3 linked regions of the Homo sapiens genome follow. The protein of the gene in region 1 purifies or fractionates together with the protein of each later gene. This does not show direct contact. Each region holds a gene or a part of one and is shown on either strand. Other genes may lie near its edges. The genes, in order: INSC, OCIAD1 and RAP1A.

Region 1 (3,832 bases):
CCCCTCTTTTTATCACCATAACTCCTTTCTCTCCTTCTCTACTCCTTCCTTTTTCTCTCTGCCTCCTTACCTCACCCTACCTCTCTCCTATTATCTCCCCTCCCCCTAAGGGCTCTCTCTTTTATTTTCTTTGCCACTATTTCTTTTTTTTTTTTCCTCCATCTCTTTTTTATACTTGGTCTTTTTTCTTCACCAAGTTCATCTCTGTCTGTTTTAATATTTCCTTCTTGTTCTTTTTTCTCTGTTGTCTCTTTTTCTCTGTTTCTTGGCTATTTCCCTTTTCTGTCTTATTTGCTCTCTTGATAGGTCTATGTTCTATTTCGCTCTGTCTCCTTGTCTCCCTTCTTGCTTTATTTTTATCCCTAATGATGCAAAAATGCATTGGTGGCCTTGTTTCCTCATCTTCAGAAAATCCCTGGTTCTGTTTTCATGGTGACAACTCAGGGAAAATGGGGTTATCTTTCCCAGTTGGAGCCAAGAAGAATCAGAAAGTGCTGTGAAGTTTACCCTTGTTAGTCTATGGGGTAAACCACGCCCCATGAGAGTCGAGATGTGTGTGTTAGAGGCAGTTCTGGGGAGTCTACTTCCTGTTGCTAGGGTCACAGACCCTGCTCATTAATGCACAGAGACACACGCTCCTTCTCTTTGACCTGGCCTGGACATGACAGCACCTGTGACTCCCAGCAACCAGCTCAAACTATCCTCTCTTTTCACTTTGTTGGCCTGATTTCTCAGCAACAGGCTACCTGCCATGTCCAGGTAATGAGTGGTACCCCTGCCTTGTGCTCAATATAACCTTGTATCCTGGGGTTGCAGCATCCTACCTGTGTGCATAGGTCTGAGTGCCCTGGAGTCAGACTCCTGTGTGATGTCTGGAAGGCCACTTTCCCCCTCTGAGCCCTAGTTTCCTTATTTCCAAAAGGGAGATCATGACACTTAGCTTGCAGCATCATGTAGGGATTAAGTGAGGTGCTATGGGGAGATTCTCAGTGTTTGCATTCCCTCCTTCTTTGCTTCTTTTGCCATTCTAGATATTCCCCCACTCTTTTTGCTTCCAGGGGTGGGAGAGGAGGGGCACCTTGTTCCCTGCTGTGTATATGCTCAGGAAGAGGGAAGAAATTAATATTTATCAAGCACTTAGCATGCATTGTCTCAGTTAACTGGTAAACAGGTCTAGGTAGGTGCACAGCTCACATTTAGTTTCAGGTTGCTCTATCAGCAGATCTCAATATTAAAGCACTTCGTTTATTCATTTCTTTTCAGCCAACATTTATTGAGCCCTGTGCCAACCTCTGTGTTGTCTGCTATAGATACAGAGAAATAGAAAACAAGATCCTTACTCTCGAGGAGCTCAGAGTCTAGTGTGGGAGATAAATACCTAAAAGCTAGTTATGGCCAAGTGTGAGAAGCTTGAGGTCAGCCCAGGGGCCCTGGTTGCACAGGGGAGGGAGGGATGGACTGTCTCTGCTTCAGGATAATTGGGGAAGCCTTCATGGGGGAGGTGACAATAGGCAGGAGCAGGAAGTCACTTCAAGTCACAAGTAAGAGTATGAGCAAGGAGGAGGGGGTATAGCTCAGAGGTAGAGCATTGGGCTGAAGATTAAGAATATGAGCAAGGACACATGGACACAAAATAGAAATAGCATACTCATTGCTCATTGTGTGGGGAGCTGGGGAGTGATTTTATTCTGCCAGCACCTCTCTTTCCTGTTCATCCCCCTTGCCAGGTGTTGAATTTCTCAGTAGCAGAATCCCTGTCTACTTTTACAATATGTTCTCCCTCTCTTTTCCTCTTTTTTCCATAGTGCTTTCTATAGCACCTTGCTGAATTTATGGATGAATGAATAGTTCTTGCTGTTCTAAGGTTACTCTAGGGATCTGGAAATAATAAAGACCATTATTAAGATTATTAACAGCTTTCAGATGACATCTATCTTAGTGATCAAGGTGCAAATAAAGCTAGCTGACCAAGAGATGTGGTTGCTATGTTGACCAGGTGACCAAGATGGTGACTGAGATGCCAAGTGGCTAACATGATGATCAACCCAAATTGTCTGGTAAATGCACCACTTTCTGAAATGCACATTTCAGGGTAGGTGAAGGAAATACATGTACCTGACATGGCCCAGTCTGACACGTGTCACCTCTTCTGTCTTCTCCCCAGGCTGCTCTGCGTAGATTGGCTGGGGTCTGCCCTGAAGGCCTCCAGGACTCTGACTTTCAGCAGTTGGTCCAGCCTCGGCTGGTGGACTCCTTCTTACTCTGCAGCAACATGGAGGAGAGTTTTGTGTAGTGAGTGTGGGCGAAGAAATACATTTGGCTGTTCTCACACCCCCTCTGACTATGCACCAGTGAACACATCTGAGTACATACCAGCTCTCCTCATCTTCTTATTTATACTTAACTTATTTTTGTGTGAAATAAATGGAGGACAAAATCTTAGAGCAACATCATCAAACAGTCTTTGGTCCTTGAGAATCTTCTTTGTGTTTTATTTTTTGATTTCTGTAGCTTTTCAGTTGCAGATGTTGAAATTCGTAATGACAAATATGACAAATTGTCATGGGTGATTCCACTTCATCTTATTTTTTCTACTCTCACTATACAATCTTGCCTCATTTTTTAAAACTTTGGAACCAGAGGATTTCAACTGCCTAGCAAGTTTTTTTTTTAAGTTGGATTTGCTCTTCCCAAAAATCTAAAATGAATTTAATAATTGGGTAGAATATATTGGAAAGAAGTTTCTTTTTCTTTAATAAATGGAATCATATAAAATGTATCCCGGATTTTCTTATTAAATTGTATTTTAAACTAGGTTCTTGCTTCCCAGGTTTCATTCCCCAAAAACTTTTCCAACCATTAAAAGTACACACAGAATTGTCTTGTTTTCATAGGTGTATAAATAGGTTAAGTTCTGAGTGACTTAGTGAGAAACCAAAGTGACTTTCAAAAATACACCCAAAGGCACCAGAAACCCTGCTTCCTTTGGCTTCTTTGCTTTTGTGTAACCTCCTGTTCACCTCCTGGTGAATAGAATCCTCAGATGAGGCTTATTGAATGATTGATTCCTCCTCAAAAGTATACTTGAAAGCAGTGGTGTGCTGAAGCCAGCTCATGCCCACTCACAAGGGACAACTGTGAGAATTTCTTCCTAACTCTGCACTCAGTGACCTTGCGTTGGTAGCCATGAGCTACTTCATGAGCCCTCATGTTGAAATTGGCCATAGTGGGAGTATTTACACCACAGAAATTCACAGATGCTATAAAGCACAGCTTTCGCTTTTTTTTTTTTTAGAGAGAGCTGGTTTACCAATTTCACTGCTTGAAAGTATCACAAAAATCTGGGGATCCTTTTGAAAATATAAATGCCATCATATTGTGATATAATTTATACAATATAATATAATTGTGTAAAATCATGATTATAATAATGTTTCAATAAACATTTCTTAAATTCCCAATTACTAGTTTACATGAGTTAACCTAATGAACCAAGTCCTGGGCTAAGCATCTAATTTGCATTATCCAATTTATTCCTCACAATAATCACATGAGTATTAATTAGTATATTCATATATGTTATTACATATGATCAGGTTATTAAATTACTTGCACAAGGTCAGTAGCTAGTAAGTGGTGCTAGGATTTGATTCTGGCAATAGCTATTACCAAAGCCTTTGTGCTGAAGTCATATGCTATATACAAAGGTAATGTCTAGGTCCTCCCACCTAATGTGATGATGATTATTATTATTACGATAGAAAACACTTGTGCAACATTAACCAGGTGCCATGGACTTGTTTTATATTATTCTCAGTATAGATATTAACAT
Region 2 (3,732 bases), on another chromosome or scaffold:
AAATAAGATAAAATGGTTAAGAAATCAAAGGAAAAGAATATTTCATTACGTGTGAAATTACATGAAATTCATATGTTTGCATCTAAAAATAAAGTTTTGTTGGAACACAGCTACGTTCATGTGTTTTTGGATTGTCTTTCGGTGCTTTTGCTTTAAAACGGCAATTGAGTAACTGGGACAGAGATTGGCCCACAAAACCCAAAATATTTACCATCTGGCTCTTCATAGAACGTGTTTGCCAACCTCAGGTCTGGAACAGCACTGTCCAGTGTGGCAGCCAGTAGTCACATGTAGCAATTTAACTTTAAAATAACTTGCAGTGAAAGGATATAAAGCAAAATCATAAAAGGAAAGGGAGCATGGGGTGAAGTCCGGCGGAAACCAGGTCCCAAGAGTTCTCTTCCCAGGGAGTGTAAATTTCTCCAACAGCTAGTCATAACAATGTGTGAAGTTGTATCTACCCGGGGAACTCATTAGAGACTCAGTGCCCACAGTTTTTATTGGGGGCTGGTCACTTATTCACCCTCTGCCTAACAGGTACCAAAATTCCAGACTCCTAGAATGAAAGCAGATGTTTGGCATGAACTGTATTTGTACAAACAGTTTGGGCACAGTGAGCCAATTACGCATATCAATGGGGGGAACTGTTTACCAGTCAAGTACCAAGACCAAATTGATCACAGGGTTGGTCACTCAAAGACCAACTTCCATTATCATAAAAAATTCTGTTAGACAGTGCTGGTGTAAAGAACAGTGATTCATAGCTGTTTTTAAGTTATAGCCCCCTTTGAGATTATGAGTTTTGGATTTTTCACTCTCGGTTTTAGGCATATATATATATAGATGTAATATTTTCATATAGTTTAAGGAGTTCACTAGTTTAGAAGAAAGAACATAAGTGTTTAAAATATGTGCTTTTTAATTTTTGCCCCAGCCACCGTATGATTACGGTCAAATATGTTTTGTATTTTGGTTTAGATGGTATACTAGAGCTTAAAAGCTTGAGATCTGGTATCAGACAGATTTTATTAGAATCTGTAACCAACCATTCAACTAGTTGTTTGGCCTTGAGCAAATTACTTAACATCTCTAAGCTTCAGTTTCCTTATCTTTAAAAGGGTGGTAATAACATTATCTACCTTATAGAAATATGATAAAAAGTATAATAAATGAGATAATGCACATAAGGCGCTTAGCATGATGCACAGAATTTAGTCATTACTCAGTAGTGGTTCTTACTTGTAACTTGTTTCTTACCTCTCCTTCATTAACTTTTTCCCCTTCTCTTACTTCAGAAGTAATTTTGAGTCACTTTTACTGTGTTGTCTTAGTTGATGCTGTTGATGAACAGCTGGCTATTTGGAACCTAAGCCTAGATGGTTCATGAATTATATTGTTTAATATTTTGTGATGTTTTCTTAAATTTAAAATGCTCCTTTAATTTTTCCACTATGTATACAGTACAGCTTTTAAAAATGGAACAGTCTTTTTTAAAGGTCTTAGTTATGCAATATAATTCCTAGATGGTTTTACTGCTATTCATTTATCTAATGAACTTTAGACAAAATCTTTTACTTTTGTTGATGTTAACAAGGTCTTTTTCTTCCTATAGCTGTGCCTTTGGCTGCAACAAGTATGTTGATTACTCAAGGATTAATTAGTAAAGGTAAATATTTAAAATTTGAATTTATTTAGCATTTTGGATACCATGTTTGTTTTGTGGTATTTTCCAGGTCTTTAGAAAAAGTAAAGATAACAATGTATCATATTAAACACTATGTAGAAATTCATTGATGAATTTAAACGTTTTATCTCTGTGGACCCACTGGCTCAAATATCATGACTTGAGAATTTCTCCTGCACTAATAGCATCATTAACAATCTGCAAGAGCAAGAAGGTAACTAAACACCAGTATTAGCAGGGCAAACCTGGTCTAGGTGGGCCAATAGCAACATTATTGCCTAGGAGCTTGTTAGAATGCACATTCATGGGGACCAGGAGTCTGTGTTTTAACAAATTCGAAGTGATTCTTATATAATGATTTAAAGATCAGTAGCTCTCTAAACCAGCTTTGTCTGATCACCTGGGGCGGATGAGTGGCGGTGAGTTAGCATTATTTAAAAAATCAGAATCTCAGGGGTCTGGCAGGTGATCTATTTTTAACGAGCCACCGAGGAGACTTTCTTGTCCTAAAGTCTATTGGCTCAAATAGTACAGTAGTGGAATTGAGTTTAGATTGAGTATTAAATGTCTTGAGTCCTGCATTTAAAATGTAGTGGAGTAAGCAGTAGAGTTGCTTAATTCCTTTACTTCATGAACTATCTATCTGGTAATGGGAAGGTGTCCCAGAAAAGGATGGTGACCTTAGGATGGCCTGGAGGCCTATTGTTTTAATTAACTGGCTCCTTCAAAAATGTGACTTAATGATTGGAAGATTTAGCCTTTTCACATTAGGATATGATGTATGGTACTTAGTTTTGACACAATTAGTTGATAAAAGTAGTTTTGGAGGCAAATGAGAGGATTTTTGGGGTAAAAATTTATTTAAGGAACTTCTGAAGAACTTCATTACAATACAGTACCATGACAAAAATCTTAAACATAGAAGCGAGTCAAGATGTATGCACTTATATGTCCTTAAGACTAAGCTGTTTTATAGACTGAGATTGGTTCTGTATTGTGAAACAACAACAACAACAACAACAAAACAAAAAAAACCCCACTTGAATTACATTCTTTGTAGGAAAAACTGGCACAGGGATGAAATTACAGTGTTTATTATTGTTCTGCTTCTTTTATCTATTTTAATCCAGTGTGTCATTTAATAATGATTGGAGCTAGGTATGCAGAAGGTTACACAAAAGAATTTAATAGCTGCTAGTAGTTCACTGGAGGAAACAAATGGATGTGAACATATGTTGAAGCAAATAGAAAATTTAATTACATACTTAATAAGCTACTAAATTGTATAGTAGAGACTCTAAGAGTTGTAGGTGTTCAAAGAAGAAAGATCTTTGTAGGGCTGTTGTAATCAAGGAAAGTTTCTTGAAAGAAGTGGGTTTTGAAGGATGGGCAGGATTTAGATTAAATGAGAAGAAAGAACATACCAGGAAGGAGGGACCTGATGATGAAGACAAATAGGCATAACTATTGGGAGAGGCAATCAGGACTGAACTGAAGAGACAAAATCATGCAGGGAGGAGTGAAAAATCCATTAAATAGCTGAAGTAGAGCCAGGAGAAATTATAATTTGGATTAGGTTATGAAGAGGAGGAAGTTTTTTAGAGATTTTGGGTTTAGGTGCAGTTGAAGACTTTGGGCTACTTGAGGGTACGGTAGAAGTGATATTGGGAGGCCGAGTCGGGTGCATCACAAGGTTAGGAAATCGAGACCGTCCTGGCCAACATGATAAAACCCCATCTCTACTAAAAATACAAAAAAATTAGCCGGGCGTGGTCGTGCGTGCCTGTAGTCCCAGCTACTCAGGAGACTGAGGCAGGAGAATCGCTTGAACCCAGGTGGCGGAGGCTGCAGTGAGCTGAGATGGCGCCACTGCACTCTAGCCTGGGCAACAGAGCGAGACTCTGTCTCAAAAAAAAGGTAAAAATTGAGAGAGACTTTAAGAAAAGAATTTGGAATCCACCAAGACATTTTGCATTTAATCAAAATCCCTGACATTTTGTACAGTGGTCCTTTTGTGTCTGTGTGGATTGGTTCCAGGACCCTCCAGA
Region 3 (3,500 bases), on another chromosome or scaffold:
ACATTGCCTACCTCACAGCAGCAGATGGTTCAGTGATGAGGGCAAGTTCGAACTATAATATTTGGTTAGAAATGCTGAAAGGCCCCAGCCTAGGTTCTTCCTCATCTCTCTGAACTATAGAAAAATCTAAAGGGAACACAGAATAGAGTTTCTCAATCCCTCTCCCATTCCTAAATTGGGTTGTCTTGATTCCAATTACTATTCCAGCCTCAGCAAAGAACAATTAATTCTTGATTAAGACTACTGTGATTCTGGCATAGCCATATACTACTTTAAGAACGTTGCAAAGTGGTGTGAATAAGAGTTTTTGAAAAATTATATATATATATATATGAATGAATTAGGGGGCTCTTTAGCCAAGCAGTATGTCCTGGTGTCTGTTTTCAAATTTAAGGCCAAGAGGTGAATTTTTGAAAGTATCTCTCTATACTTCAGGCATTCAAAACTCACAAAAAAATTTACAAGGCAAAAGTTGTGTGAGGAACTATTAACTACCAAAGAAATCCTGTAGCTGGATTATTGGGTTATAAAGAGAAAAATATTAAAAGAAACTCAAATTATCTGCTCCATTCTCCCCACTCTCAAGAACTGAGCATAAAGTTTGTATGTTTTCCAAAAAGTAAAGATTCTTGAGATGGCTAATGCATTTCATTTTATGGTTTTTCTATGTTTGTTTTTATAAACCCTCGTTTATAAACTCTCTGCTTTAACAAGACTGCTATGAAAAAGTATCTCTGCTGCATTGGAAACTAATCCAGAGGAAGTTTAATAGCATGTAGGTTCTCACAAACATGTAGTGTACTGTCCTCTGGCTCCCAAAGGGAGAAGTCCTATGCACTGGACTCAGGCCCAACCCAGCCCCACCGGAGCCTGGAGTCTGATGAACTTGGTTGGTGGGTCCCATGGAGGTAAGGACAAGGACAGCAAGGAACCACATCCCGTAAGGCCAATTATCTTGTAGATAGTGACCTCATGTCACTGTTCTGCTAGCCAAACATATTCACAATTTCTAACAAATTCTTTATCAAAATCACTTTTTTTCTTTAATTATTGCTGAAAGACTTGTTCCCCCAGTAGGATGCAAACTTCTTCAGGGCAGGAATAGTGTCTGTCTGAGTGACTGTTACCTGAGGGCCTGACACAGTGCCAGACACACAATAGTCAATAAATATTTGCTGAATAAATACAATTTATAAATTTCTTGTTTTTATGTACTTGTTAAAAATGGTTTCACATAAAAAAACAAGCTTTGGCATTCTTGATTATCTGTAAAATACAGAAGTTGAAGCAAGCTTAATTTTTTTTTACCTGCCAGGTGTTTAAAGTAACCTGGTCATTTTTAAAAGTCAAATAGTCTATAAGCATAATATTAGTCAAGAAAAAGTGGCCAGCAGAACCACAGGCCAGAGAGAATAGCAAAAACAGAGGACTCATAACTTAACCCACTCTCACTCTCACCTATGTAGTTAAGTGATCTGAATTCTGACTGATTACCTGTAATGCTACAAATGGCAAAAGCAACGGCAGGAAAGAAGCCCACTCTGTTGTTTTTATTTTTTTAAAAGGCTTATGTTAAGGTTAACAAAAGCAAGGGAACTATTTAAGGTTGACTGGTGGGGACAGTTGGAAATTGCTCTAAATTTTTAGGGGCCCAGTAAACTAGTAAACTGTTGGCCCTTTACACCCAGGCATGCAGCTTATTTGCTAAGTATTCTTGTCCACAGCTGTTTTCAAGATAGTGGAGTGCTTAACCCAGTGACCCCACCCCCATGCCCCACACAAAAGCCTTGTGCATCAGCTGTATCAGGCCTAAAGGACTGAGTGAATTCCAGGTACATGTCCATACCCACACAGATTACCCACTTATGAGTCATGCACCAAAGGTGAGGTAAGACTCAGAACACAATTCTGTGATATCCATAAAAACATATTATTTTCCAACTTGACTTTACAACCTATTTATATACATTTGGGTAAATAATTATTACAATATAAGGTGATGTAACAATTTTTACACACCACTTTATCGCATATCACTTAGAGGCTTAGCAGGATTTTACACACATTCTTCAATTTTAGCTTCCTCTTTTACAATAAGGTAAATTTAAGTATCCTCATACAGCCATCAAAGTGACCTTATGCAAGCTAAAAAATATAGTTTCCAGGAATTACTTAGTGTTTCCTATAAAATTATGGAATCAAGATTGCTTAAAAGATAAAAATTTTTTCTTAAAAGTCTGGCTGTTAACTTAAAGCAAACTAAAAAGGCACTTGTTTGTGCTGCCCAGCAGTTGTAGGTTACCTCATTAACATTGATCTTTGACTTTGCAGAAGATTCTAAAAAGGCACAGTTACACCACTGTCTTGCTAAATTCTGGCCCTGCTCTTTGCCAACTACTCGCTCATCTTCCAGGTCACATTTATTGCCAACCAAAATCATTGGAACCTGTGGGAAGAAAAAAACGTAAAATGAACAATAACATACTCATTACTTAGCCTTTTAAAAAAATAAATAAGCAATTATCTGCCACCAACTGAAATGCATTAGTTGGGACCGCAAGCTTCATCAAATACTAACGAAAAGTATATGTTGAGGGGAAGAGGCGAAGGAAGAAGGAAGAGACAAAAAAAAAAAAAAAATGGAAGAGATCCTACTACATAGATATGCCAAATTATTTTAAGAATATAATCCTGGCCAGGCACAATGGTTCATGCCTGTAATCCCAGGGAGGCTGAGGTAGGAGGACTGCTTGAGCTCAGGAGCCTGAGACAAGCCTGGGTAACATAGTGAGACCTGGTCTCTACTAAAAAATTCAAAAACAATCAGCCAGGCAGGGTGGCACACACCTGTAGTCCCAACTACTCAGGGGGTTGAGGTGGGAAGATCACTTGAGCCCGGGAGGTAGACTGTGATGTGTGAATTATACCAATGGAATTTTAGAAATAAAAACACACCACTATGGATCTTAATAATGTTCTTTGAACACTGTTTCTGACACAACCATCACCTTTCAAAGCTCAACTCAGGTCCCACTTCTATGAAGTATTCTTTGGCTCCTCTTTTTCCTCTACTGCACTTTTTAACCTATAGCACAATGAGTACTTTATCACATATGTCCTCATTTTCTAAACATCTCACCACATAATTTTGAGGTTAATTTTGAAAGTTAAATTTTTTTCTTTTGGTCACAGGGGCTCTTTCAGGCATGTGGTAGATAGCTTCCAAATCCTCTACTAATAGAGAAAACAGGCACTTTTTTATTTGGCCACAGAGAGATGGCATAACATCTTACAGAGAGAAAAAATACTTACATCTTCCGTGTCCTTAACCCGTAAAATCTGTTCCCTCAGGTCCTGTAAGTCGTTAAACGTGGACTGAGCTGTAATAGAATATACTAGTGCAAAACCTTGGCCGTTCTTCATATACAAATCCCTCATTGCTGTAAATTGCTCCTATGATTTAAAAAATATGCAATTATAAATATATAAATTTCTTGAAT

Evidence for each region.
Region 2: the proteins of INSC (region 1) and OCIAD1 purify together in Homo sapiens (affinity purification with mass spectrometry; one large-scale study listed by BioGRID and IntAct). This does not show direct contact.
Region 3: the proteins of INSC (region 1) and RAP1A purify together in Homo sapiens (affinity purification with mass spectrometry; one large-scale study listed by BioGRID and IntAct). This does not show direct contact.

The regions. Positions count from the first base shown.
Region 1 is NC_000011.10:15,243,748-15,247,579, forward strand, and holds the end of INSC (protein inscuteable homolog), read left to right. Parts: intron 1-2,164; coding exon 2,165-2,293; 3' UTR 2,294-3,461; downstream 3,462-3,832. UniProt on the Homo sapiens protein: May function as an adapter linking the Par3 complex to the GPSM1/GPSM2 complex. Involved in spindle orientation during mitosis. May regulate cell proliferation and differentiation in the developing nervous system.
Region 2 is NC_000004.12:48,841,024-48,844,755, forward strand, and holds part of OCIAD1 (OCIA domain-containing protein 1), read left to right. Parts: intron 1-1,612; coding exon 1,613-1,666; intron 1,667-3,732. UniProt on the Homo sapiens protein: Maintains stem cell potency. Increases STAT3 phosphorylation and controls ERK phosphorylation. May act as a scaffold, increasing STAT3 recruitment onto endosomes. Involved in integrin-mediated cancer cell adhesion and colony formation in ovarian cancer.
Region 3 is NC_000001.11:111,703,289-111,706,788, reverse strand, and holds part of RAP1A (ras-related protein Rap-1A precursor), read right to left. Parts: intron 3,454-3,500; coding exon 3,313-3,453; intron 2,447-3,312; coding exon 2,303-2,446; intron 1-2,302. UniProt on the Homo sapiens protein: Counteracts the mitogenic function of Ras, at least partly because it can interact with Ras GAPs and RAF in a competitive manner. Together with ITGB1BP1, regulates KRIT1 localization to microtubules and membranes.